3 linked regions of the Homo sapiens genome follow. The protein of the gene in region 1 purifies or fractionates together with the protein of each later gene. This does not show direct contact. Each region holds a gene or a part of one and is shown on either strand. Other genes may lie near its edges.

Evidence for each region.
Region 2: the proteins of EDEM1 (region 1) and UGGT1 purify together in Homo sapiens (affinity purification with mass spectrometry, with the first as the bait; 2 studies listed by BioGRID). This does not show direct contact.
Region 3: the proteins of EDEM1 (region 1) and MTCH1 purify together in Homo sapiens (affinity purification with mass spectrometry; 2 studies listed by BioGRID and IntAct, with this or other methods). This does not show direct contact.

The regions. Positions count from the first base shown.
Region 1 is NC_000003.12:5,211,704-5,218,727, forward strand, and holds part of EDEM1 (ER degradation-enhancing alpha-mannosidase-like protein 1), read left to right. Parts: intron 1-1,615; coding exon 1,616-1,819; intron 1,820-4,125; coding exon 4,126-4,215; 3' UTR 4,216-7,024. UniProt on the Homo sapiens protein: Extracts misfolded glycoproteins, but not glycoproteins undergoing productive folding, from the calnexin cycle.
Region 2 is NC_000002.12:128,171,199-128,178,222, reverse strand, and holds part of UGGT1 (UDP-glucose:glycoprotein glucosyltransferase 1 precursor), read right to left. Parts: intron 7,019-7,024; coding exon 6,939-7,018; intron 5,651-6,938; coding exon 5,461-5,650; intron 4,443-5,460; coding exon 4,284-4,442; intron 3,451-4,283; coding exon 3,365-3,450; intron 1,410-3,364; coding exon 1,325-1,409; intron 392-1,324; coding exon 303-391; intron 1-302. UniProt on the Homo sapiens protein: Recognizes glycoproteins with minor folding defects. Reglucosylates single N-glycans near the misfolded part of the protein, thus providing quality control for protein folding in the endoplasmic reticulum.
Region 3 is NC_000006.12:36,983,174-36,990,183, reverse strand, and holds the start of MTCH1 (mitochondrial carrier homolog 1), read left to right. Parts: upstream 1-3,987; 5' UTR 3,988-4,010; coding exon 4,011-4,331; intron 4,332-7,010.

The DNA.
Region 1 (7,024 bases):
TCTGGACCTGGACGAACCCTTTGGTATTACCTAATGTTCATATGTTCATCATTTCCCTCACAAGAACTACAGCCTACACAGAGGTCAGGCGACTTGCTCAAAGTATGGCGATGGCTGTGGCAGAGCTGAGGTGTGAACTGTGGTCCTGACTCCCTGTCTGGTGCTCTTTCCATCTCACCGCTCTGCCTCGTGCATACAGCCACTCTCGTGCCCCCTGCCACTTTCCTCAGTATGGCCACATAGAAACAGAGGGCAGGATTTCCAGGTTAGAAGATAGCATGGCAACTGAGAACTTGGGCAGAGGGTCAGAGATAGAAGCAGCTGTGATAAATTGTGTTTATCTAGTTCCGTGGTTCCTAGGCCTGGGGCTAGCTGGGTCCAAATCACCCTGGGGCCCTTGCTAAGATGACAGCCATATTAAGTCAGAATCTTCAGAATAAGCGGGCTCAGAAATCTGTCATTTTGACAAGTGCCTCCAGTGGTTTCACATGAGCCAGGTTTTGGAGCTGCTGGTCTAATCCATTAAGACGATACTCTTCTCTGTCTGGGGTCTTTTCACAGATGACTGCAGAGGTATGTCCACCAGCAGCCCATGTGATCTGTCCAGTGGGAAGACAGCTGTCCTGCTGTCGATTCCTGTGTGTGCAGTGGTTCTTGCTCTCCTTGCAGGTGGCTCAGTTCTGCTAAATCAGGCTGGTCAGAGCCTAGCTACATATTTCCATCCAGCAGCCACTGGTGTCAGAAGGACGTTAACAGGGCGAGTTTTAGAGTAAAAGGAAGGTGACCCTGGAGGGTGTGCTAGCTGAAAGAACCTAGAGTCTGGGGAGAGGAAAACCTGTGGTCTACCCTGTTCTTCTCTTGTTACTGTGTAAACATTGACAAGCTGCACTGAATCTCATTTTTCCTCATCTTGAAATAGTTTAGGTGACCAATAAAGTTTCAAAGAGTTTCTAGGTATTCATTCATTCAACATTCACAGAACACTTGCCTTCTCCTGCACTGTTGCATCCCATATTGGGTTAGATGTTCTTTCTAGATGCTCTTTCGTTCCGTGTCACATGCACCATTGAGGGAAAGGACTGTGCCTTGTGTCCATTGCGTCTTCAGAGCCCAACCCTTGTTGTGCAAGAAGTGAAGTGAATGTTGGCAGATGTGTTGGGCTCTGTGCTAGGCCCTGGGGAAATGGTGGTGGATAAAACTTGGTCCCTCCCTGTCAGCATTTACAGTTCAGGGTCTAGGTGTGTGTGAGGTTGGGTGTAGTTCTAGAATTCCAGCAGGAGAACTCTTAGGTAGCACATGGAAATCATCCAGTGAACTTTTATAGACTACCTGTGCTTGGGCCTTAGTTTCAGAATTTCTGAGTCTCTGCGTCTGGGCAGGGTATGTGTAGGGGAGAGGCAGGTCTGGGCATCTGAGTTTAGATGAAGCAGGTGATTCTGCCTTGCAGCCTGGGTTGGGCACCACAGTTGTCAGTCAATTCCTTTTCACCCAGTTGTCACTGAGAAGCATGAGGCCCAAGCAAATTCTACTCCCTGAGTAGCTGGGACACGCCCCCATGATTCAGTTCCCAGTGTGCTACAATTATTGGTTGTATCTTTTTCTCCGTTCCCTCTAGCTGTTTGATGAAGACAATCCAGTACACAAGTCTGGAACCAGATACATGTTCACAACAGAGGGACACATTGTATCTGTGGATGAGCATCTTCGGGAATTGCCATGGAAGGAATTCTTCTCTGAAGAGGGAGGGCAGGACCAAGGGGGAAAGTCTGTGCACAGGCCGAAACCTCATGAGTTAAAAGTCATCAACTCCAGCTCCAACGTGAGTTGCTTTTTCCAGGGGTGATTTGCATATAGAGGAAGAGAAGATACTATGAATTGCTTAGTTGTTCAGACTTCCTGACAGAAAATTGATGGTGTATGCAGATTGGGAGATTTGAAAACACCTCCTAAAGACACCATTTACATAGCTGTTGTCAGGGTATAGGGAAACCGCAGGAGCAGCGGTGGCATCATCACTGCTGGCTGCAGGTGCTGGTGGGGAGAGTGGCTACAGGATCCTGGAAGGGGGGAGCCTTGTGGGAGGAGCGAGCACTCAGCAGGAGCCACGGCTCAGATCTGACTTTCAAGGCCTTGCCTGGAGGGAGCCGGCAGAGTCAACATGTGACCCCTCCCCGCTCCCCCAGTTGCCTGCTGGAGCATCTTCTTGGCTGCCTGGGGCAGAAGCTGGAGGCCGAGGGAGCCTGTTGATATGATCCATCAGTGGACCTGGAGGGGCAAATGGAAGACATTCAGCAAAATCATTTACCAGCAGCAGAAGGGAAAAAAAGCAGTGATGGTCACGATGGTCCCAATGAAGATGCTCTTCGAAGTGCAGCAAACACCCACATTCATTTAAAGTGGGGCTTTACTCCACATGCCTAGATTGTCCTGAGAAGCAGCAGGAAAAATTTGGAAATGGAAGTCCTTGCATCCCTAGTGAAAGTATCAGGTAGTTGTGTTGATTTGAATCAAATAGGATGATTTGGAAGTGAGGATAGGGAAATGTAGGTCAGTCAAAATTTCAAATCTTGTTATCCCCCAGGGCCTTGGTGGTCAGGAGTTCGGCAGCCTCCCCACAGATGGGTTGCCTTGGCATTAGGGGTGCCCTCTCATCGCCGACTGTGCTTCAGTGCTTTTCCGTTAATGCCCCAGTGAAGGTCTTCACCATCAGTCTATGAAGTAAATCGATAGGCCAGAGTGTAGATAACCACCCCCGCCCCCATTTCCATCAGTCATGGAGCGCTGATTGAGTGGACAAAGCATAATCGGGAGGAAGGGGAAGGAGGGTGAGAGGGGGAAGAGTTAATAACAGCCAGCATTTGCAAACACATACCAGGGTTAGCCTTTGCACCATTCTAAACGCTTACGTACATTAATCTGTTTACTTCTAACAACAGCCCTGTGAGGGGTGGTTACTTTTAACATCTCCATTTTACAGCTGAAGAAAGGGAGGCACAGAGAGGTTCAGGTCCCACAGTGGAGCCAGGATTTGGACCCAGGCAGTGTCTTCTCTTTTAGGAAGGAGACATCTCTGACCTGCCATACTCACTAATAGATCTGATCCCATGATTCCAGGCACCAGGGATTCAGGCCCTCAGAAGGGCTCCCGGTTCTGGATAGGAGCATGGCCTAGTGGGGAATCCACTTCCATCCTAGGCGTTTGTCTGTAGTGCTGTTGAAACACAGAGGGTAGGGAGTAATCTCCAGAGAAAATCAAGGCAGGATTCCCTGAGGAGGTCACTTGCTGGAGATCCTTGAAGGATGAAAAGGGGTATCCCAGAAAGGGTGTTCAGGCAGAAGCAGTAGCACCTGCAAAAGCACAGAGATGTGGGCTGGTGGGGGCAGTCGGGACCAATGGAAGGACCGGCCAGTCTTGATCTTGCCAGGGATGAGGAGCAGGGTGTAGTAAGTTCAACTTACTACAAAGCGTGGGGAAAATGTTTCTTTGGAGATGAAGCAGATAATGAATGTATTTAGACAACTGCTTCCAGGGATGTCACAGTTGGTTAGTTCTCAAGATGTGCATCTGCTTTGAGGAAAAAAAGTGGTGGGGGTGGGGGGGTTTTAATTAAAGAAATAGTCTTAAGCATTTAGAGTTTAGTGAGTTGTGAATGAGAAAAACATAGCTCAGAAAAACACAGTATTTTCAAGTAGCAGAAATGTTTTCTGAAATTCTGGGCGGACTAAGGACCCCAGGGATGTGGCTTTCAGTCCTGGCCACGAAGCAGTTGCTGCGATGCCTTTTAGCTTCCCTGGATCTGCCATTTCTTTATAAAGTGAGTGAGGATGTTAAATTATGTCACTGGTCTTCACCTGAGGGTGATTTTGCTCCTCAGGGAACATTGGAACAGCGTCTGGAGACGTTTTTGATTTTCACAGCTGAGGCGTAGGAGTTGCCACTGGCACCTAGTGGGAGAGGCAAGGGGTGCTGCTGACCGTCCTGCAGTGTACAGGCAGCTTCCACAACAGTTACTTCCAAACGTCAGTAGTTCACAGGCTGAGAAACCCTGGATTAAGTCATCCAGTCACATTTCCTGAGAGAGCAACATATGAGTTTTTAATTTTCCCTCGTTTTTGTCTTTCTAGTGCAATCGTGTACCTGATGAGAGGAGGTACTCCCTGCCCTTAAAGAGCATCTACATGCGACAGATTGACCAGATGGTTGGTTTGATTTGATCTGCTCTCTGTGAGGCCTCATCTTGAACCAGACCTTAACGACCAAACCCAGACCATGCCAAAGTCCAGTCTGAAATGAAAGGGGACAGAAGTCTTGCTGTCCATGGTGGTGTAGGAATTTCTGTGCAACACCTCACCACGTCTGGTTAATCCTTGCACACTTCAGTGTTTCTCTCCTGTTCAATAAAATGCCCTGTTAAGGATATAATTTGAAGTGAGAAGATACATGGAAATTGCCCTCTTATGACATGTTGATGTTATAAGCACAATAGATGGGGCATCTTTGGATTGATGTTCACAGCTTTATACTTCAGAACCTAAGTCTCTTCACTTTGCTGGCACCTGCTATACTGGAGTATTGCTATGTCTTTAAAAAATTTTTTTTATTATATTTTATTTTTTTGAGACAGGGTCTTGATATTTTTTTGGGACAGGGTTACCTGGGCTCAAGTGATCCTTCTGCCTCAGCCTCCCGAGTAGCTGGGATTACAGGTGAGCACCACTGTACCTGGCTAGCTACTTCTTTGTTAGAGGATTGAGAATGAAATTTCTGCAAAAGGGCCCATGGTTCATTTGGTATCCCTATTTAATTGCATTGAAAATGTCATCCTTTCTGTTGTTAGATAATTGGGGTCTTCCCCTGATATCCAACCGTGATTTTGGATCACATGGGAGAAAAAGTCATCCAGTTTTTCATGTTTGCCTCAAGTAATCTTTACAGTGTTACAAATTATTTGCTTAAGAAGAATGGTCTTAACCAGAATTCTTAACAGATAGTCTCTTAGGTTATTATGTTATGGTCTAAGAGGTTAACTGACATCTTTTGGGTGGTATTTTGCATTTTGAATATGAACTTACCTGAGGAACTCCCATAGTTCCAGAATCAGGTGCCTTTTAGGGAGAGAACAATACCTAAGATTGTCTGAGCTTCCATCTTTCTCATATTTCCTAAGCAAGGATTCTCACTTCTGACCATATTTGGGTTAGAGTTCTGTTTTGTTTCTGTTTTCTGTGTCTAGTGCCAATTAGCTAAATCAGGGAGAAAGAAATGATCACATGACTTTTAGCATCCTTGAGCCATTTCTCTGTGTAATACAGGCTTTAGATTAGTGCCTTATATTGGTTTTGGTTTGGGGCACTGGATGTCGCAGCTACTGCTATGGTTTCAGGAGGCCTGTTTAGCCACATGGTGAGACCGTGGTGAAAGGGGGATGGAAATTGCTTGGCCAGTCTTTGCCTTTCATCCTGTAAAAGTAAGCATGTAGAAGGAGGAAGTTGTGCTAAAATGCCTTTGTTTTTTTGTTATTATTTTCTTAGCCAGAACATCTCTCTTTGAACTCACACTGATACACACCTGCTACTCTTACACAGTGCAGCAGGGTTGACTCTTAGTCTGGCTTCCATGAAGCGTCATGGGTGGAAACGCATTCTAGTAAAAAAGGTAGGAAATCCCTAAAACTTCCAGCCTCACATAGCACGGTTCTCACCTGTCACTGTTTTCCCACCTCTAAGGATTTCATGTACATCTTTTCAAAGCTAGAAATAAGCACTGTCTAAGTTTATGTTGCATTTTTAGTCAAAAGGGAGAAATCTTATTCCTTCTTGAAAATTTTAAGTGTTATGGTTTTATATAGTTCAGTTCTTTGAGATTTTTGAAAAGAGTATTTTCAGTAATAAACGTGCCATCTCTATCTCTTAAACATTTATTACAACAATTGTTTTAAAATAGAAAAAATAAAATGCTTCTATTTTACCTTTTTTCATTTCAGAAGCATTATTCTGTTTATTAACAGTGTCCCATCTACTGAATAGAAAACTTTGAGAATAATATATATATATATTTTAAATGTTTTCACTGACTCATTGAAAATGTTAATTACACACACATGCATGCATGCACACACGAGCATACTTGTACCTTTGTCTCTGGGCAAACAGGTGGGACTGTTAGTGACCCATTTGGGAAAATAGAGCATCTCAGAGAAGGAGGTGAGTTCTTCCTGCCTGTGATTTCTCTTGGCGCTCCCCTCCTCTCCCGCTCTGGCTTCTGTGGCGGCAGTGGTGGGTAAGCACTCCAGTGTTCTCTTAATGAGGCACTTTGCCTGTCACTCGAGCAAGCCTGGGTGTTCCTTCCTCCTCATGCTCCTGGAATAGGGAATAGGGATCTCATGCTTGCAAACTACACAATGCTGCAGGTGCTTCCCAGGGGCCACAGGCTGTCAGGAAACGTGTTTTATGTTAAGTCACAAACCCACTTGACTTCTGGGTACTGGAATTAATACCAGTGGGTGAGACTGAGGGTGAGTGAGTTAGTACATATTAATCCTGGTTGTTGAGCTTCCAGACTACCCCGTCCAAAGTTTGATGCTATGTAGTCAGTGGTTTGTGGGGCTGGATGCCAGAAGGTTCTTTGAGCCAGTTTCAAAGGTTACTTGTTTTTTTTTTTTTTTTTTAAAGTCAGAATGTTAACAGCTGTGATATATCCTGCAGGGCTTTTGCAGTTTCTTCTGTTCTGTGTTCTGAAATACTGGGTAGAGAATGGCTGAGGAGGAGATTACCAGAGAAGTTGCTTTGCTCAGTGCTTTGCCCCAGGATTGCCTCAAATCTGAGTGGACTTCATCCTTTGCGGCGGCTCTGAGCCTGGCCCATCTTCCTATTCCCACGTGTAGCTAGTGTCTAGTGTCAGCTTTGCTCAGTGTGGTGGAAACATTTTGCAGAACTGTTGTAGAAAGCTGCCTTATAGTTGGCTTGACAAAGCATAATTCTCTCATAACAAACTTTCAAATCATTACAGTAGCTTAGCTACTTT
Region 2 (7,024 bases), on another chromosome or scaffold:
ATGCAACTTACACAACGGGAAGTAAACTGAGCAGGGAGCAGTCAAATTTCCAAAGAGCAGGTACAGGCAATGAGAGTCACAAAGTATGGAGCAGAAGTAACTTCCCCACTAGGAGACATGAACCTCTTTTGGATCAATCGAGTGGAAAATACTCATCTATGCCAAATATAAGTGTGAGATGTAGCTGCACAAAGTAGAATGTGAAAGGCCCAGACAGAATCACAAGATGCAAAAAGGAGGGATGGATGGTGCTTATATCTCAGTTTTTCCTTAAAAACATAACTCTTACAATGTCAACTTACCATTTGAAGGAATCCCAAAATCCAGATTCATTCTCACTCGTTCCATCACTCAGCAAGTCTTCGTTCACCATATCTGCCTTCTTCTGAACCTGCAATCAAATGTGATAAACCTTACTCCCAGTATGTCTCACAGGCATAAAACTGCCTCTCACTGGATATACACTGTGAGCCTGTCATCAATAGGGAATTATCAATCAATTCTCTCACAAACAGGCACAACCCCACCCAGAGTCTAGAAGGATTCAATAGAAGTATCTTCGCCAGGACATTCACATCATAACCTTATGTGAGGAGACAGCAACCTCTTTTAATTAGATGAACCCCATTTTCAGCTTGCAACATAGGCAAAGAGCCGCAAACTCAACTGTGCAGTGAAACCAGAAGCACGATTCAATGAGTCAACAGCTAGTTCCAGGGAAGAGTGTGGCTGCTGGGGGCTCTAGCTGTTGGGAGGGAGGTATTTCATGTTATGACCAGTTTTCAGGATTCACTAGCACAAACAGGGGTTTCTTCTTGGCAGTACAGTGACCATTTTTCTTCTCAACAATGGATGGCCTATTTTAGGTTTCACTGTGTGTAATGATTCTTTCTTCAAGAATATACTGTACTTGAATTTAAGGCACTAAGAGCTTCAACATTCAGAGAACGGAAAGTACAAGTCAAAAGAAATTAAATAGGACTATCATTTTATTATTGTTGAAAATTTCCATTGCCAGTTCCCCCAATATTGAGAAAAGAATCATCAACAACACTATGAATTGTGGCTATATAAACAACATAGCATCTATGAGAATATTTTATATAAGATGGGACATGTTCTGCACACCGAGATTACCCAAAAGGTACAATCTTTCAGTTGAGGGAAGCCACAAACTCACAGTTACAAAGACATTTTGCCTTAAAGCAGTATCCCTATAATTGCCATAGCAAATTCCAAAGAGACTCTTGGGCTGGTTCCAAGATACATATTTTTAAATGACAGCTGTCCAATAACAGAATGCCACTACTTTTACCAAACTCACCTTCACTTTAATAATTTTGCTTTTGAAGTTGTTGAGGACGATAACCACCTCATCAGCATCAGGGGGAGAATCAGTGCCATCGTGGCTTTGCGAGAAAAGAAAGATCAATATTACAAGGCACAATTCTCAAAAGGCAGCAAATGCTCTCAGAGCATCTGAGTCCATCATCCTTCTCATAAAGGAGTTTTCCAGATCCAGCTATCTTCTTGCTCCTTAAGCTCCTTCGAGCTGCACAGAAGCACGTGTTGAAACCTCTCTTTATATAAGGTGCATGCCCAAACCTCCTTTGTGAGTCCTCTTGCAAATTACCCATCACGTAGTGAGAGGCACCCATGTGTGGTAACCACATGGTGAGTACTAAACAACCGCCTGTGTTCACAAGCTCTGAGCCAAGCACAGAGCCTTCGATAAAGGAATGCAGGGAACAGGCCCCCTGAACCATTATTGGAACCACACTGCCTCCGCTCTTTTTTTTTTTTTTTTTTTTTTTTGAGACAGAGTTTTGCTCTGTTGCCCTGGAGTGCAGTAGAGCAATCTCGGCTCAATGCAACCTCCACCTCCGGGGTTCAAGTGATTCTCCTGCTTCAGCCTTCAGGTAGCTGAGTTTACAGGCACCCACCACCACGCCTGGCTAATTTTTGTATTTTAGTAGAGACAGGGTTTCACCATAGTGGCTAGGCTGGTCTCAAACTCCTGACCTTAAGTGATCCACCCTCCTCGGCCTCCCAAAGTGTTGGGATTACAGGCGTGAGCCATCACCCATCACTCCCGGCCACTACTCTTTAACTGGAATAGTGTTGTAAAGGAAATCTGCTCGCTCTTTCTGCCGGAGGCAACAATCAGTCAACAATAGGCCCTGTACTCAACCTGGTGTCTATACGCTACCAGAAAAACTGTAACAAATTCTATTTGCAGGCAGACAGGAGCAGAGGAAGAAAAATTAAATGTATGTTTCCCTACTAATCAACAGCAATGCCTAAAATTTCCAGTCACCAAATTTCAAGGTGCAGAAAGTCATAATTACAACATGAATTCACTGCATTTGCTGTCATCTAGCAGAGAGTAGGGTTCTCAGGCAAAGGAAGATTCTAATGGGGGTGGGGCCCTGAACAGCTAGGAAGAGGGGGCACCATGCTCCTGGGAAGGGGAGGGCTGGCAAGGGCCAGGGCATCCAAAAGGGAAGGAGTTCGGAAGTGCATCCCAAATTTTGTAAAACCTTATCTGAGGAAAATGTTATGTGGGAAAAAACCTTCTACTGTTTACAATGGTGTTATTATAATACAGAATTCTTCTATTTCCTGGGTAAGAACCAGGCACTAATCCACTGTTTCATGTGTGTCGCTACGGAGCTAATTAAGGCAAGGACATACTACAGAGTGCTTCAAATGTGCCCTAATGGAAATCATCCCCTACACAACCTGACGGGAAGCCTCTTCACACAGTTTAAAACTAATTTAAATTGTGTTAAGCAGAATTTATATCAAACTTTTTTAAAGGCAACATAATTATTTTTAAACTAATAAATATGTGCAGTAAACCTTAAGGTAAAAGCTGGCTATAGAGGGAATGTTCTTACTATGCCACCACAGACCAAGGAATACCAGCACTAACAGCACAGCTTCAAGACCAAAGCTTCCATGTACTGTGCATTTGCAAATCACTCAGGGTCAACACATACACTCTCTGGGCAGAAAAGTGTGGCTGTTCTTTCTTTCTTTTCTCCTTTCTTCAAGTTTCTCATCTGCCTATCTATGAGCCGCATCACACTGATAGAATGATTTGATTCTGGGATATTGTTAGCACAAAGGAATAATTAAAGAATAAAGCCTGACTATACTCATTAGCATCTATACCTCTTATTATCTAATTCTATTCTAACAATTCTTCCATATTTAATTTCCTGGAAAAACCACTGTTTCATCACATACAACTGCAAATTAAATTCATGTTGCCTGGCTAACTGCCAGGGTAGTATTCAATTAGAGCTAATGCTCATTTCTAAAAGTTCTGGGATAATGTAACTGCATCACTTACTCCTACCTGTAAATTCTATAAATATCTTCAGAGCGTCCCTTCCTAAGTCTGAGGATCCAAGCTCCTGGGTTGGCTTTCAGCTGAAAGTAGCCCTAGGACAAGAAGAAAAGTCCAGTTAGCTCTCTTCAAAACACCAAAATGTTATTTCTGAGGAACAGTTACTTCTATTTCTGAAATATCAATCAACTATAATGTGAATAACACAGTAAACAAATCAATGCAACTCTTAAAAAACCAAAACTACACATTAAAAACTCTAGCACAGACCAGGTGCGGTGGCTCACGCCTGTAATCCCAGCACTTCGGGAGACCACGGCAGGTGGATCAACTGAGGTGAGGAGTTCGAGACCAGCCTGGCTAACATGGTGAAACCCCATCTCTACTAAAAAAGGACAAAAATTAGCCGGGCATGGTGGTGGGTGCCCGTAATCCCAGCTACTCAGGAGGCTGGGGCAGGAGAATTGCTTGAACCTGGGAGGCGGAGGTTGCAGTGAGCTGAGATCACACCACTGCACTCCAGCCTGGGCAGGAGTCTCAAAAAAAAAAAAAAAAAAACTAGTACAATAAAGGCCAGTCACACCAATAAATCATCTGCTCTTTAGCTGTGCTTCAGGGAAGAATCAACGTGTGATGCATGAATAAGTGTTGCACTTCCAAAGAAAAGAAAAAGGCTGTCAGCTCATGAGCAATCTATTTTCAGGGGGCCAATTCAGTTATAGCTGAGTATTCCAGCATGTTTTTTCTTTTGACATGTAATTCTAACCTACAAATTTAGCTGAACTAATGATTTCTATATTGACCAAATTCAGCCCATAATGAATTTTAATCTCACTCTATGGTTAAGAATGCTAATTGCTCCATCATAAATTATAGTGCCCAAATTAACGTAACTACAATATCACTATCTGATGAACAGATTATTTACCAGATTGGCCATAACAATGGTGTCCACAATGACCGGGTTGGCTGAAGTTCCTAAGGTAAACTGTAGTCCCCGTGGAGGCTGGCCTGTGGTGATGTCGTAGCAATGACCTTCCAGTAACAGGTATTCCAGCTCATACTCAGCAGCCACTACACTGTCCACCTGCAAGCCAAAATCCAATCACTTGAATGCACTCAGAGACAACATGAATAAATCTGAAATGCATTATGCAAAGTAAAGGAAGCAGACAAAAAGGACTTACATAATATATGATCATATTTTAAGAAATTCAAGAAAAGACAAAAGTATAATGACAGAAAGCAGATCAGTTGTTGCCTGAAACCAGGCGAGAGGAGGCTACTGTCTGCAAAGGGGTATAAAAGAACTTTTTGGGGTAATGGAAATGTTCTGCATCGTGGCTATAGTGGTGGTTAATGACTGTATACAATTATAAAAACTAGGTTGGAAAGAGAAAGGAGAAAAAAACAATAAGGACGTTATTCTAAAAATACGAACGAGGATAAGATACTAAATGTTGAAAAAAATTAAAGACCTAAATGCAAAGACATCCTGTACTCACGTATCAGTAGAAAAACTTGCACACAACATTCATAGCAGCATTATTCATAACAACCAAAAAGTGAAAACAACTCAAATGTCCATTCGTGAAAGGATAAATGAAACGTGATATGTCCATAAATAAAATATTATCTGGCAAGTTAAAAAGAGTGAAGCGTCGATACATACTACAGCATGGATGGATCTTGAAAACAATTTGTTATGTGAAAGAAGCCAGTTACAGAAGACCACATTTGATTCTATTTAGACAAAATGTCAGAATAGGCAAATCCATAGAGATACAAAGTAGACCAGCAGTTGCCAGGGGCTGGGGAAATGAAGAGTGACTGCTAATGAGTATGGGGCTTTCACTGGGGATGCTGAAAACATCCTACAATTACATAGTGGTGATGGCTGCACAACTCCGTGAAGATACTAAAACCTCTCAACTGTACACGTTAATGGGGAGAATTTTATGGTATATGAGTTCCATGTGAATAAAGCTGTTGTTTAAAAAAATATCATACCTGAACACTGATGTCTCAGAGGCCCACCTAGACTATGATTCAATCTGCTGTATTATACATGATTAGGTATTTGGAAGCAATAGATATGGTCTTACCTCTTCTAAATAAATATTATCAAGATCATATGGTGTTCTGACAGATTCTACCATCCAGCTCTCAGGTGTGTTCAAATTCAGAGTGAACAGTGGAGACTGAGGCATATCCAAAAATTTTGCGATTGGACCCTTAGCAAAACTATTGTCTGAAGTGAAAGAAATCTCTGGTTCTAAGACATAACGGTAAAAGCTGAAATTGAAAAGGAAAGTGTTAGATAATTTTCGATGTGACAACAGGACTTGAGTGCACAGCCCTTACACAGGTAACAACTGGTTAAAACAAATTAGATTTGGAGGAGTACCCTTCCAGATTGGGAAAAGTGTTTCCAAAACCATCTTTGACCTTATGATGCCTCCTTGTGGTTGCTGCAGATGCAAGAAAAGGCAAACAAGGACAGCACTGAGGAGGAGTGCTCAGTGGTGGCCTGTGGTGATGTCGTAGCAATGACCTTCTAGTAACAGGTACTCTAGCTCATACTCAGCAGCCACTATACTGTCCACCTGCAAGCCAAAATCCAATCACTTGAACGGAGGCCACTCGTTCACATGGATGGCTGTCAGGGTCACAGTTAGGTCCTGGGCATTTTCCTCCCTTCAAGGAGGACTCATTTTTCTCTTTAAAACCAATTCCTAAATACTGATTGGGCTCTCAGGCTAGTCCTGAAAACACTAATAATGTAAACATTTCCCCTATACGAGAATAATGGTGGAAGCTGGGAACCCTTTGGTTACTTTCAAATGCTGTTTCAATCCACTTAGAAGCTAACCTATAAAACACAGCACACTGGCAAGTTAGAAATTTCCCATAGCCACAACGCTAACTGCTTTCTGTATCACTTTTTTCATAAATGACCATTCCAAAGCTCATGACAATATATAGCTAAGCAAGCTTCCTCTAACATGTATATTCCAACTTGAAATGAATATTCTTCTTTTAAGATGAAAAGCACAAATGGGGCCAGGCGTGGTAGCTCACACCTGTAAACCCAGCACTTTGGGAAGTGAGGCAGACGGATCACTTGAGGTCAGGAGTTCGAGACCAGGCTGGTCAACATGGTGAAACCCCGTCTCTACTAAAAATACAAAAATTAGCTGGGCATGGTAGTGTGCACCTGTAATCCCAGCTACTAAGGAGGCTGAAGCAGGAGAATCCCTTGAACCCGGGAGGCAGAGGCTGCAGTGAGCCAAGATCATGCCACTGCACTCCAATCTGGGCGACAGAGCGAGACTCCATCTCGAAAAAAAGAAAGAAAAGGCACAAATGCAAGCAGCCTGGGTTAATGCCACCTAAATGCTACAAACACACTATGTTCTTAGAACTTCTGATTAGAATGAAATTTGGCAAAACTGAACATTTAGTAAATGACCATTTCAAACATGATGTCCACCTATAAATCCATCTGATCCTCTAACATGCAATATCAGAACTTGGATTCAGTACAATTTCTTCAACTGTTTTCTTACATAGCATGTTTTACCTTTTTAAAGGCATGTCAGAAAGTTTGGATTGGCAGTTCATAAATACTCTCAGATTCATGTTTATCAGCTGAGCCAAAACCTAGAA
Region 3 (7,010 bases), on another chromosome or scaffold:
CTTCCGAGTAGCTGGGATTACAGGCATGCGCCACCATGCCCGGCTAATTTTGTATTTTTAGTAGAGACGGGGTTTCTCCATGTTGGTCCAGCGCTGGTCTCAAACTCCTGACCTCAGGTGATCCAGCCACCTCGGCCTCCCAAAGTGCTGGGATTACAGGCGTGAGCCACCACGCCCAGCCTTGTTGTTTTCTTTTTAAGAGGGTGGGGAGAGGCAGAGGCAAGTGGAATTGGAACCAGGACCTAAAGTCGGCTCCTTTTGCAGCTTGGCTTCTGGGTGGGGTTGATGTCTGAGGGTGGGACCCCAGGGATCCAAGACAGAAGAAAAGCCAGTGTTTCCACTCCCACCTCGCCCTCACCCCAGACAAGCAGGTGATCAGAGGCAGCAACCGGAACTAGTTCTCACCCAAAACTAGTAAACAGGAATCCTACATCGAAATGAGCCCATCTTCTTTACACCAAGGTTGATTCTCCTTACACCTTGTGCACCTTCCCTGGAGCTATGGTTTAAATGTTCCTGCCAAAACTCAAGTTGAAATTTAACTGTCAATGTAATGGTATTAACGATGGGAACTTTAAGAGGAGATTAATGCTCCTATCTCAGGAGTGGATTAGTGATCTCAAGAATGGGCTTCAGAAAAAAGGACAAGTTCAGCCCCCGTTTGATCTCTCTGTCTAGTGTGCTCACTCCGCCTTCCACCTTCTGCCATGGGATGACCCTCCCCAGACGCTGATGCCACGTTTTTGGACTTCTCTGCCTCCAGAACTGTGAGAAATAAGTTTCTTTTTTTATAACTTACCCAGTCTGTAGTATTCTGTTAACAGCAGAAAACATCAGGTGAGGCCAGAACTCTGATGCCGCCCTTGACATCACCTTAGTTCCCTCCTGACTGGATCAGTATGATGTCAAATTAATTGCAATGGTGGGTACTTACTAATTTGCATTTACTTTTCATTACAACATATCCCACAGGATTCCAGGGACCTGGGATGGTCTGTATTCTTGGCAGTTCTCAAGATCTACGAGTCTTATTTCCTGTTAACTTTTTTCCTTTTGCTTGATCCTATCGGGCACATGGATCTTCCTAAAGTTTTGATTCTGTAATTAGTGCTACCATAAAAAACTGTACAATTTTGGAGAGTGTTTTTGCTCAGTCATTCATTTTCTAGTAATATTTGTTGTGTTCCTATCATGTGCCAGGCATTGAGCCAGGCTTGGGGTTCAACTATGAATAGAACAGTCCTGGCTGTCAAAGAGCTTACAGTCTAACAAGGGAGACTGACAAGAAAACAGGCAGTCACAGTGCAGTGTGGTCAGCACTGCATATGTGAGGTGGCATATGCAGAGGGTGGTGGCACCGAAGTGGGGGGCACTACCCAAGCCCAGAGCTTACAGCCTTTTTTTTTTTTTTTTGAGATGGAGTTTCACTCTTATCGTCCAGGCTGGAGTGCAGTGGCGTGATCTCGTCTCACTGCAACCTGTGCCTCCTGGGTTCAACTGATTCTCCTGCCTCAGCCTCCCGAGTAGCTGGGACTGCAGGCATGCGCCACCATGCCCAGCTAATTTTTGTATTTTTAGTAGAGACGGGGTTTCACCATGTTGGCCAGGCTGGTCTCGACCTCAGGTGATCCACCCGCCTCGGCCTCCCAAAGTGCTGAGATTACAGGTGTGAGCCACCGCGCCTGGCCAGAGCTAACTCCTTTATAGCTCTAAAGGTTTATTGCCAGGTTGCTCAGTAGCTTGACTGCTGAGGAAGATTTTCTTTCATTCAATCATTTCAGTGAGTATACTTTTCATTTCTAGATGTTCTGTTTGGCACCTTTTCAAATACACCTGTTTTTTTTTTTCCTTTACAATTCCTGTTCTTTTTACTAGTACTTCCTATTATTTATCTTTGCCTTCATTTGAAACCTACTTCTTTCCTTTTAATTTTCTTTGAGATGGTTCTATTATCTCAAGTTCTTCCTGTTTTGCCCATTCTCTCTCATGATGGCACGTTTCTTTGAGCGGCTCATACATTTTTTATTGTGAGGATTCTTTTTTTCTTCCTCTTGGAGTCTCTGTGAGCCCTGAGTTGTAGAAATACAGCTATTGTGCAGTTTAACATTTGCTTCTGCTTGGTACCCTACGGGTCTAACTGGTTTAGCTGATCTATTTTTCCTTCAATTTCTTCACTTGGAGAAATTGTTCGATCATTTAGAAATACTTTACTGAACATGTACTATGTGCATAGTCCTATATCTGATGTTGTGGAAGATACAAAACAATGCAAGACAACACAAAGTTGCTGCTTCACATGAAACTACAGTTTGAAAGGGCCAAATACAGTATAGGCCCAAAGTTAGGTGACCATGTAAGGCAGAGTAAAAGGCTCAACGGTGAACAGCCAAGTTCAGAAAGAAAAACAGACAGTTGGAGAAAAATGGGGACGAAAAGCCCAAAGAAGGAAAAGGTTCCTGTGAGGAAGTTTCAGAAGGATGGGGAAGTAAATCATCCTCCCCTACCCCCACCCCCCACCCCCAAACTAAAACCTATCGCCTCTTCTGGGTAGAGAGTTAGTGTGGCACTAGGAACTTGACTTTGAGGTCCTTATTGAGAAAGCTAAATCAGAACCTAGGCAAAAGGAAGTCATTTAAGGTGCTCCTGGGGGATGTTTGATGAAAATTGTGTTTGATGGAGAAAACACAGCAAGTTGAAAGGGTTAGCAGGCTTTGCAAGTGATTTCACTAGGACAAGCCTGGGTTAGGGAGGCCAAGGTGAGGGAGAGAGGGAGTGTGGCATGCTTTGAACGTGGAAAGTACATAGTGTTCATTATCAGGAGTGGGAAGAGGGGAGGTAGCTTTTTAGGGGGTAAGGCAGGAAGGGAGTTAGAAAGGACAGACTGGGAAACCCGGACTAACAGTGGCAGGTGTCGATCTAAAGAAATTTCTCACAATGAACTGGCTATAGACTAAGTACAGACAAAGGGACCAGGTCTTCCATTGCTGTGTCCCTGCACACTCTAGGATCCGTTCAAACAGAAACTTTTATTGCGAACCCCCAAAACTAGCACGGTTCTGTTGTAGGTGTTGTTGCAGAGTGTCGGGCACGTTTACAAACAGGAACAGGGCACTTGCTGTCCTATCTTCCTCGCAGGGTTCTTGTGACGATTACACTTAAATCAACACGTATAAAGCATTTTAAAAAGTGCCTGTCACATAGTCCCTGCAATTTAAGGTCTAGTTGTGATTATTCACTTGTATTAACTAAGAATCAACTACAGGCGCCTAGCAGTGCCTGCATGTGCTCACACTGAGGCACTCACTAAAACCCTCAGGATCTAGTGAGGGAGACAGTCAAATACTTTAGAGCAAAACAAATTTTACAACCACGGACTCTGAGGAAGGCGTGCGAAGGCTCCACAGCTGGGGAGGGTGCCCACAGTCGCCGAGGGGACATCTGGATTTGCTCTGGTTGGGAGAGCATTCCTGGCAGAGGAGATGGAAAATGCGATCGGACAAAGAGGCTGGGACCGCGGAGGGGATCGGGCTCGGGGTCGGGGCTCGTCCTGCAGCAGGAGATTCAGCTCGCGCAGAGTTCCACGCAGGCCGCGGCGACTGGGATCTGGGCCGCAAAGGGGCGGGCAGAGAACTGCAGAGAAAACTCCCGAAGCCAGGGAGGTGGCTTGGAAGCGCCTCAGACCATATTGGGGACGTCTGGCAGCCAGAGGCGCCGAACCCCGCCCCCGCGTGCTCTGGGCATCCCGGGGGAGCGCCCCGGCCTGCGGCTGCCGCCACAGCTCCCGAGCCCGGGGCCCCGGCTGCCCGCCACCATTGACCCCCGGCCCGCAGCCCAGTGTCCTGCTAGGCCTCCAACCGGCCGGGGAGCCACATCCGGCGTGTCCCACCCGCCGCACCACGCTCCCGAGCTCCCCCGCGGCCTGGAGTGGTGCGCCCCGGCCCCGCCCCCTGACGCCGGTGAGGGGGCGTGGCCCCGTCACGTGACGGGGAGTGACCTCGCCGCCGGGCGCCATGGGAGCTTCGGACCCGGAAGTGGCGCCCTGGGCTCGCGGCGGTGCCGCGGGGATGGCGGGAGCCGGAGCTGGAGCCGGAGCTCGCGGCGGAGCGGCGGCGGGGGTCGAGGCTCGAGCTCGCGATCCACCGCCCGCGCACCGCGCACATCCTCGCCACCCTCGGCCTGCGGCTCAGCCCTCGGCCCGCAGGATGGATGGCGGGTCAGGGGGCCTGGGGTCTGGGGACAACGCCCCGACCACTGAGGCTCTTTTCGTGGCACTGGGCGCGGGCGTGACGGCGCTCAGCCATCCCCTGCTCTACGTGAAGCTGCTCATCCAGGTGGGGGACCAGAGGCGCCGTAGGGAGATGGGAGGCTGATGTGAAGGTGACAGGCCAGGATTTGGAGGATTGGGGCGGGCAGTCAATGGCGACGGATTTGGGGAGAGGGGTGGGGACGGCGGGTTTGGGGGGCCGAGTGGGTGGGATGGGAGGGAAGCCGTGAGGGAGTTGGGAACGCAGGGGTCACGGGTTTTAGGATACAGAAAGGAGACCAAGGGGTTAGAGTAATAACAGATACGGGAGAGGGTGGAAGGAACAAGCGATTTGGGGGAGTGCCAAGGAGGGAGCGATGGGCTGGAAAAACATATTTGGGAGATAAAGGAGTGGGGACGATGGACTTGGGATAGGGAAGGGAGCGAATTTGGGGCGAGGGAAGAAGCAATAGAATTGGGGGAGGGGCAAGAAGTTTGGGTGAAGAGATGGGGAGGAAGGTTGGGGGCCCAGGCAAAGTGTTTAGAGAATGAGGAGCACATAATTGGGGTAGAGGGGAACGGAGGCTCTGGATTTGATAGAGATGGATTTAAAACGTCTTGGGGTGGGGACAAAGTGGGCGCCAGGGCCAGAAATTTAGGAGGGAAAGAAGGACACCAGACTGGGGGTGGACAGAGGAGACGGAGGTCTTGGGTTGCATTGTGATTTAATTTGGTGGGAGAGTGCGAAGGCAAAGACTTTTGCAGGGGAATGCTATCGGTTTACCGGAGATGGGGGCTCTGGATTTGATGGCGACGACGGATTTGGTAGGAGGAGGGGACAGGGTGACGCGTATGGGGGGAGGGGAACAGATAGGGCCAGCATTGGGGGAGGGGAGTGGCAGCGATTTGTCTAGAGAGGGGAGCTAGGAGGAGGCTTTAAGCGGGGAAGGGGGATGACGCATTTGGAGGAGGAAATGGAAGTCATAGTTGGGGTCAGAGAGAGGAATCACAGTGCTTGTATCTGGGCAGATGAGGAGAAGGGGCACGGGAGTATTGAAATTGGGCAGAAGGGACAGTGGAGACATAGGTGGCAGGATAGGTAGGGACTACCAGAAATTGAGACCGAGGTAGGGATGTCTCTGGAACAGAGGGATGCATAGGCACTTGGCAGATTTGGTGGTGGCCAGCAATGCGGTACAGATGAAGTGTGCTGCTTGAGGAGTGAGCTGGAATGAAGGGCGTGTGGAGGTGTGAGAATTAGGTGGGTGTGGCTGGGATGGGTACAGTTTTGATGGGGGTCATTAGGCCAGAATTTTCCAGTTAAGAAGCTTGGGGGGAGGAAGGTAAAAATTGAATTGGAGACCCATCCAAGATTTGAGTTGAGGCAGGTGGGTGTCAGATTTTACCATCTTTATAATTGAACCGAGAGAATGCAAAATACAACTGGAATGAGAAGGCCTTGAGAATGAGAGTAATTGAAATCTGGGATCCGAGGAATGGTAATAGATTTGTGGGTGTGACCAGGAATATGACAAGGAATGAGGAGATTCAGTCAGGGGCATCAAGGTGCCTGACTAGACCCTAATTGTGACAGATTTGAAAATTGTTGATGGCGGAAGGTGTAGACCAGACTGGCATTTGGTTGTGATTTGGGAATGAGGGCTGTCTTACAGGGTTAAGATTGTATTTACAGCAGTTGAACTTGAAGTTTGGGAGATAAATTGGTGCTTTGGACCTGAGAAGTGAGGGTTCTGGAAACTGATGGAATGAGACTGAGTGAGGGCTAGGATTTTAGGGCACAGGTGGGAGAGTCTGTGGAGTGAAGGATACTGGAGCACAAGGGCTCAGTGTGAGGGAAATGAAGAAGTGGCTTCATCATTTGGATGATGGCAGATCTGGTTTGAAAGAACATTGAAATGAGGGTGGTTTGGGAAGGGAATGGGGGAATGAAGGACACCAAAGCGTGAGAAGAACTAGATGGTGGGCAGGTAAGGATGGATGAGCCCTGTTGAAGGACCAGAGGTGCCTGTCTGATTTGAACCCAGCTGGTGTTGAGTGTAACATATATTAGGGTAAGATCTTCAATGGGTATAGTTTGGGAATCAGAGTAATAACTTGCAGAAAGGCAAATTACTGGGAGTGGGGGTGTCAGGAGTGGAGTGACAGATTTGGGGATTGTCTAGATTAGGTGCGTAAGAATGCAGTGCCTTAGATTAGTGCATGTGGCTGTCAGGTTTGGGAGTCGGAGATTTTAAGATGACAGACTGTCCCTGCTGGTATCTGATATAGGGCCACAGCATTTGCCGTAGTTAGGACTGGGTTAACAGATTTGAGGTTGAAATTGGGTTTAATGACTTGGGAACAAATAATTAAAACTTGAAGGCAGGAGGAATGGGGGTGAGATACAGCCAGTGTGCCTATGATAACCCAATAGAAGTTAAGAAAATAGATTCAACAGATTTGGGAGCCATGGGGATATGGGATAACGTTACAAATTTAAGTATGAAATTGGGGTCAGTGGGACTCCCAAATAGTGTTGACTAAACTGGATAAGGACAGCAAAAGAGCAGTTGTGGCGATTTGGAGTGGAGGAATAAAGGAATACCACCTGTATTTAAGAGAACACAGATCAAGACAAAACTTAATTCAGAACAACCTTGGAGCTTTTAACCCAGAAGGGAAAAGGTCTAGAAGGGAAGTACTCACTGCCTGGGTCAGCTGACTCACCCCTTTCCTCCTTTGCTCCACTGGGTCAAAATTTTTTTCT